Homo sapiens: one gene and its partner. The protein of the gene in region 2 purifies or fractionates together with the protein of the main gene of each other region. This does not show direct contact. Each region holds a gene or a part of one and is shown on either strand. Other genes may lie near its edges. The genes, in order: PTPN23 and NRCAM.

Region 1 (3,819 bases), on a different chromosome or scaffold from region 2:
GAGTAGGGCCGGGGGAAGGGATCAGGCAGCTCACCAAGGTTGTAGAGAATACAGGCCTGCTCGTACTTGATGTCCTCATGGGCCACAGACTTGCCTGAGAAGATCTCTGTCCTGCAGACATGGCACCCCAGTTATCTCGAGGGCAGGAGCTAGCCAGGGCCCTGAGATTAGGTAAGGGGACTAAACACCCCATTGTGGGGATGTGGGGAGGCCTGGGGGGACCATATGAGGCCATTCCCCATCCTATGCAGCAAGGAGAAGGGGGAAGGGAGGGGAGGAGCACCCCCACCACCCAGACTCCCCGTGGGATCCTCCAGCCCTGCCTGCGGCTCTCACCAGGTGACAGGGACAGCGGCCTCCTGGCCCGAGCCCATGGGGACCCGACTCTGCAGGTAATGAAGCTGGCCGAGGTACTTGCGGAGGACACTACAGCCCTCAAAGTCTCGTGGGACACGGACAGCATTCTGGGGGGCAGGATGGGAGAAGCAGGCCTGTTGTCATATGGGGCAGTGGACACGCAGGCCAGCTAACTCACAAATGCCAGGAAAATGCATCACAGCTGGCCGACTGCACACACCAAGGGATCCCAAAAAGTCCATGGCTATACCTATAGTCGTTCAACAAAACATTCCACAAGCCAGGGCTGGCAGCTGGCCGACTGAATCTATCCCACATAGTTTTTCCTTTTTTAAAAAAAAAAAAAAAAAAGAGTCTCATTCTGTCACCCAGGCTGGAATGCAGTATTCACTGCAACCTCCTGGGTTCAAGCAATTCTCCTGCCTCAGCCTCCCAATTAGCTGAGACTACAGGCACACGCCACCATGCCTGGCTAATTTTGTATTTTTAGTAGAGGCGGGGTTTCCCCATTTTGGCCAGGCTGGTCTCGAACACTTGACCTTGTGATCCACCCGCCTCAGCCTCTCAAAGTGCTGGGATTACAGGCATGAGCCACTGTGCCCAGCCCATCTCAAACATCTGAAAAGCAGTTTGCAACATGTTTTAAGTTTTTTACTCTACTTAACTTTTGGCCCACAGTTTTTTGAATTTAATAGAGACAGGGTTTTGCCATGTTGCCCAGGCTGTTCTCAAACTCCTGGGCTCAAGTGATCCTCCCATCTCTACCTCCCAAAGTGATGGGATTAAAGGTGTGAGCTGCCACACTCAGCATGACCTACAGTTCTGTATCTAAAAGTTTACAGTAACAGACTTCCAGGAAAGCAAATGCTTGGATATGAACGCAAGGATATTCATCACAGCATTATTACCAGGGTCAAAAACTGGACTCCAGGTCAGGTGCAGGGGCTCACACATGTGGTCCCAGCATTTTGGGAGGCCAAGGTGGGAGGATCGCTTGAGGCCAGGAGTTAGATACCAGTCTGGGCAATGTAGCAAGACCCTGTCTCAACAAAAAAGAATTTTAAAAATTATCTAGGCGTGATGGTGCCTTTGGTCCCAGCTCCTTGGGAGGCCGACGGGAAAAGATCGATTGAGCCTGGGAGGTTAAGGCTGCAGTGAGCTATGGTTGTGCCACTGTTTTCCAGCCTGGGTGATGAAGCAAGACCCTGTCTCTCAAAAAAAGCAAAAGGTAAAACTGGATACCCACCAAAATTCCCACTAAAGGGGACTGTTTTAAATTAATTATGTCAAGGCGCCTCACAAGAGAATATGCTGCAGCCATGAAAACTAAAGACAAGAGTCTCTAGTTACTCATATGTTAAGATGCCTATGGCATGCTATTGGGGGAAAAAAAAAAGAAAAGAATGTGGCCAGGTGCAGTGGCTCACGCCTGTAATCCCAGCACTTTCGGAGGCCGAGGCGGGAGGATCACGAGGTCAGGAGATCGAGACCATCCTGGCTAACACGGTGAAACCCCGTCTCTACTAAAAATACAAAAAATTAGCCGGACGTGGTGGCAGGCACCTGTAGACCCAGCTACTAGGGAGGCTGAAGCAGGAGAATGGCGTGAACCCCCGGGGGGCGGAGCCTGCAGTGAGCCGAAATCGCGCCACTGCACTCCAGCCTGGGCGACAGCGAGACTCCGTCTCAAAAAAAAAAAAAAAGAATGTAACAAATGGGATCATACAAATACTGATATCCAAATGGGTACACAGGCCAGGCAAGGTGGCTCACGCCCATAATCCTAGCACTTTGGGAGGCCAAGGCGGATGGATCACCTAAGGTCAGGAGTTCGATGCCAGCCTGGCCAACATGGTGAAACCCCGTCTCTACTAAAAATACAAAAATTAGCTGGGTGTGGTGGTGTGTGCCTGTAATCCCAGCTACTCGGGAGGCTTAGGCAAGAGAATCGTTTGAATCTGGGAGGCGGAGGTTGCAGTGAGCTGAGATCATGCCATTGCACTCCAGGCTGGGCAACAAGAGAAAAACTCTGTCTCAAAAGAAAAAACAAAAAAACCCACAAATAGGTACATAAACAAAAAGAAAATTCAGAAGACTGTACACCATAATGTTAACCGTGATTATCGCTGAATGACAGGATTTAAGTAATTTATCTTATTCTATATAAATAGATAGATATGGCTGGGCGAGGTGGCTCACGCCTATAATCCCAACACTTTGGGAGGCTGAGGCGGGTGGATCGCTTGAGCCCAGGAATTCGAGACCAGCCTGGGCAACGTGGTGAAACCCCGTATCTACTAAAAACACAAAAAGTAGCCAGGCATGATGGTGCGCACCTGTAATTCCAGCTACTCAGGAGGCTGAGGCAGGAGAATCACTTGAATCCGGGGAGCAGAAGTTGCAGTGAGCTGAGGTTGCACCACTGCACTCCAGCCTGGGTGACAGAGTGAGACTCGGTCTCAAATAATAATAATAATAATAAATAAATAGATAAATATGTATACATCTGACAGACATGTATTTAATTCTTCATATTGTTTATGTATTTATATTAAACATTTTCAATATTTATGATAAACAACAGAGCTATTATTTTGGGGGGAAAACAACAAAAAAATGAACCCTCTGCTTAAACAAACAGAAAAGCAAACAATACACCCTCCAAGGAGCAGGTGCACAGTGAGGGGGATGGCTTGACACCTGTCTGCCCTCAGCCCCCTGCAGAGAGGACCAGAGCCTCTCACTAGGACTTAGCCAGAAGAAATCCTCCAGGACACTCCACTCTGGGAGCTCGGCTCTGAGCTGCCAGCAGGGATGCTCTCAGATGGGGTACATACACCCTGGGGACAGTGGAACAGAAAAGTCAGGCACCAGTTGTACTCTACACCACTTCCCAGCAGTGTCTTGGGAGACTCTGAAACTCAGTCTCTTCTTTAAACAGGGATGATAATCTCCCTGGTAGTGAGGCTTCTAGAATGCCCAGTGCAAGGATAAGGCATGTCACAGCTGCAGCTCACAGCATTAGGCCAATGCTTCTCAAATCTAGTCATTCTTATCATACCCCTCCATCATGACCTCTGCCATATCCAAATACCACTTGTACTTAACATTTTTCTTTAAACAATCCATTTTTAAAATTAAGAGCCACATCCTAAGCAATAACAGCTCTAAAATCACAGGTGTGATGCGCTAGCCACACAGTTTTTTTCAATACTCACTAAAATAGCACATATAAAAGTATTGAAAAATCTTGGCCGGGCATGGTGGCTCATGCCTATAATCCCAGCACTTTGGGAGGCCAAAGTGGGAGGATCACTTGAGCCCAGGATTTTGAGACCAGCCTGAAGAACATGGCGAGACTCCGCCTCTACAAAAAATACAAAAATTGGCCAGGTGCGGTGATGCATACCTGTAGTCCCAGCTACTCAGGACTACAGGCTTGGGAAGGGGGAGAAGTGATTG
Region 2 (3,819 bases):
CATGGTCTAGATCTATCTATGTCTTCAAACCAGGGCTGAGAACAAAACCCCCCAATTTTCCCCAACAAAGATCCACCTGACATTCTGACATTTTGCAATATTCATGTATTCAGTCATTCATTCTTGCACACACTCATTTATCAAATTTGGGGGCTCTCAGATACATACCACCATGCATAATGTGAAGAGCAGCTCAGGCTCCTCGCAGAACAGAGCAAGGATGGTTTCCGAAGTTAGGAGACATGGAGAAAGCTGACTAAGATAAGCAAGGGCCCCCAATGCCTGGATGACTAGTTATCTGCTTTTCTTTATCATGCAGACTCGGCCCCTCAATGTTATTTAGAGCAAATATCAAATATTTTTATACAATCGTATGTTCTCTCTGCATTTACAACCTATGTCTTTTTTTTTTTTTGAGATGGAGTCTCGCTGTGTTGCCCAGGCTGTAGTGCAAGTGCATGATCACAGCTCACTGCAACCTTCGCCTCCTGGGTTGAGGTGATTCTCCTGCCTCAGCCTCCTGAGTAGCTGGGATTACAGACGCCCACCACCACACCTGGCTCATTTTTGCATTTTTTTAGTAGAGATGGGGTTTCACCATGTTGGCCAGGCTGGTCTCAAATTCCCGACCTCAAGTGATCTGCCCGCCCAGGCCTCCCAAAGTGCTGGGATTAGCATGAGCCACCACACCCAGACCCACCTGTCTACCTCTTTACTAATTTTTATTCAGCCTTATTTGCTTAGGTTTCACTTGGTATCTATTTGCTCTTTCAACAGAGTCTCTACTTAGATATTTCTGAAAAATTTTTCATGAATTGAACTTTGATACATTACAGCAGCTCACTCATCATATAATCCTTATGCAAAGTGAAGAATCCTCTTTGATGTGAACAGTCACCCCATATGGGTTTGCCAAGTTCACTTCTTTCTTTTTTTTTTTTTTTTTTTTTTTTTAGACAGCGTCTCGCTCTATTGCCCAGGCTGGAGTGCAGTGGCACAATCTTGGCTCACTGAAACCTCTGCCTCCTGGGTTCCAGTGATTCTCCTGCCTCAGCCTCCCGAGTAGCTGGGATTACAGGCACGCACCACCATGCCTGGCTAATTTTTGTTTTTGTATTTTTAGTAGAGAGGGGGTTTTACCATGCTGGCCAGGGCGCTCTTGAACTCCTGATCTCATGATCCGCCTACTCTGTCCTCCCAAAGTGCTGGAACTACAGGTGTGAGCCACTGCGCCCGACCAAGTTCACATTTTCATATGCTAACTTTCTCAAGCTAGGGCCACCTGTACATAAAGGAACAAAACAGCTGGAAAATAGAGTGGATTTGGCTAGGAATTTAAGCATGTTACACTGAAATAACTTTAGCTTTCAATTCTTAGTAAATTCTTCTCAATACATTTCTTTTAAATGTAAATGTCTTATCATATTTCATTTTTGTAAGGTGACTTATGAGTTATTTCTATTTTATGATGTCAAGTTACTGCAATGACCCAAAGTACTACAGTAAAATATCCCTAGAATATTTCGTATTGAGTGCTATGAAGTGGAGACTATTCTCCATTAGCCAGGCAATAGCCATAAAAACTTTTATTCTTTTCCCTTTCTCTTTCTTTCAAATTTTAAGCTATTACCTTTAGAGGTAATGAGTCTGATCATGAACTCACTCCCTCTCTGCTGTTTAATGAACCCCCTCATGGTTTTAGGACAGCAGTGAACCCTTGACATCTATTTACCTTCCATTATAATTTCACATCACAGTAACTGTTACTAGAAACGTAAACATAACCATGGAGTTTTTTAAACCCCAGCACATCTATTAAAATGAAATTTACCTTAAAATTCATGAAACACACAAGGTATATATCATGATTCATGTAAAACACAACATGTCGTGTAAGTTAATATAATCATTCTGAAGTAAATTAGATGTTGTTCACATTAGAGTATTTATTATGTTGGAATTTCCATGTTACTAACTGTTCAAATATTGCCATGTCAATGTTATTTCCCTAAAAGTAGAAATATTCATTTGAATGTACTAAATATACATTTACAAAAATGGCTTTTAGCCATCATGCTACTAACATCAGAAGAAAAGACTATGTCGAGTCATTTAAGCAGTCAAAGATGCGAAAGCAAAATTTGGTGATGTTTCAACTTTCAATTTTTCAGTTTTCAAATACTACAATTTTTCCATTTCCAATCGCAGTTTTACAGAATACCAGGAAGAATTTCAAATTACCCAAAATTGCTTTTTATTTCACTTATTATAATACATTCTAGTACCCTCTACCTCCTAGTAGCTGCTTTTATTATTCTAGTGATGCACACACTAGAAAACGTTTCCTACTGAAATGTTTTCAATCAGATGCTGCCTACCAAAATGAATGGAAAACCATGTGCCATATGAAAAACTTCGAGAGTAAATATAAGAGTGATGGACTCCCACCGGGAGCAGAAAGCCAAAATCACACTTCATAAATATACTTATCTGGGAAGAAAAAACACTGGTTAGACAATATTTAGGACAGATGTATCTTGTTGCACATCAAAACAATCTGTGGACAACACCACAACACTGCGATGCAATTTTACAAGGGAAGCTGGTTGGGCATTTCTGTATTTATTCAACTAGATAATAGAGGGGAAAGCCGCAGAACAGTCAGAAGAATATTTGCAATGCAATTAGGGGGAACAAGTGCATCTGAGTGAGCGCCAGACACAGGGGCCTCCCCTTAATTCACACAGTCCAATGTTTTAATGCAGCGTACAGCAGCAAACTGAACTTCCTACAGTTTTAAAACTTTTGTCAGTTAACTAGATGTTTACCAAGTGCCTCGCTTGGGCACTCAACATTTCGGGTGTGCCATCCAGCTCTATGTAGGTTGTTCCAACACCATCTGTCACTTAAGCTTCCACAGATTCACAAATTTCAATTCGAACTAATCTACTCGGCACTCAAACTGAAGCTATAATTCAAATTTCAACATGAAGCTTGAATTCCTTTTCAGTGTTCTTCAACTTTGACCCAGCTCCCCCCTCCCTTCACTGAAAAGGGCCAAGACAACAGCCCAGCAAGTGGGGCAGGCAAAACAGGCCTCCTTTGTTCACTTTTGTCCTTTCAGCTCTCTATTGAGGTAAGGGACTGAAAAGGCACACCAGGTTTTGGAAGGCAGCAGCGGACTCGCTCGCAAGCCATCCTTCCTCAAAGAACCAAAAAACTCCAGGACAAAACTCTTTGGACAGGCCACTCTTACCTTAAGGCATAATTAATGGGAGATTAGTACTTCCCCTTTCCCTTGAGAGAGAATCTGTTAGTGGTGTTGAATATGAGTCTGTAAATGTTCATCAAAAATGCATGCCATAAATCATGCCATTCAAATGCCAAGGACATCAAAAAGTGGCATGAAATTAGCTTTAAAGTTGAAATTTGGAGAAAAGATCACTACATGCTGAATACTCATACTGAATTTTTTGAATGCTCTCAGCCCACTTGAGAAAGATAAATCAAATTCATTGCATATTACCCAGTGGAAGACCTCCTACAGGATTCCCTCAGATTGCCCTAGAAATAGATTTTTTTTTTTTCTGGTTACAGTGGGTTTTGAACCAACACACTATGCACATAATAAAATTTAAACATATATATATATTCAACATATATATATTCAAAATATAGTTTCCAGCCCTTCCTACCATTATTTAATGAGAAGAATTTCAAAAGGATCATTTTTGCCTGACAGTACCTGTCATTTTCATTCTCATGTGAATTAAACCATGTTTTAGTCCAGGGCAATATGGAAGAAATTCGGAGAGCACA

The links.
Region 1: the proteins of NRCAM (region 2) and PTPN23 fractionate together in Homo sapiens (co-fractionation; one large-scale study listed by BioGRID). This does not show direct contact.

The regions. Positions count from the first base shown.
Region 1 is NC_000003.12:47,401,297-47,405,115, reverse strand, and holds part of PTPN23 (tyrosine-protein phosphatase non-receptor type 23), read right to left. Parts: intron 465-3,819; coding exon 337-464; intron 112-336; coding exon 35-111; intron 1-34. UniProt on the Homo sapiens protein: Plays a role in sorting of endocytic ubiquitinated cargos into multivesicular bodies (MVBs) via its interaction with the ESCRT-I complex (endosomal sorting complex required for transport I), and possibly also other ESCRT complexes.
Region 2 is NC_000007.14:108,446,331-108,450,149, forward strand, and holds part of NRCAM (neuronal cell adhesion molecule isoform A precursor), read right to left. Parts: intron 1-3,819. UniProt on the Homo sapiens protein: Cell adhesion protein that is required for normal responses to cell-cell contacts in brain and in the peripheral nervous system. Plays a role in neurite outgrowth in response to contactin binding.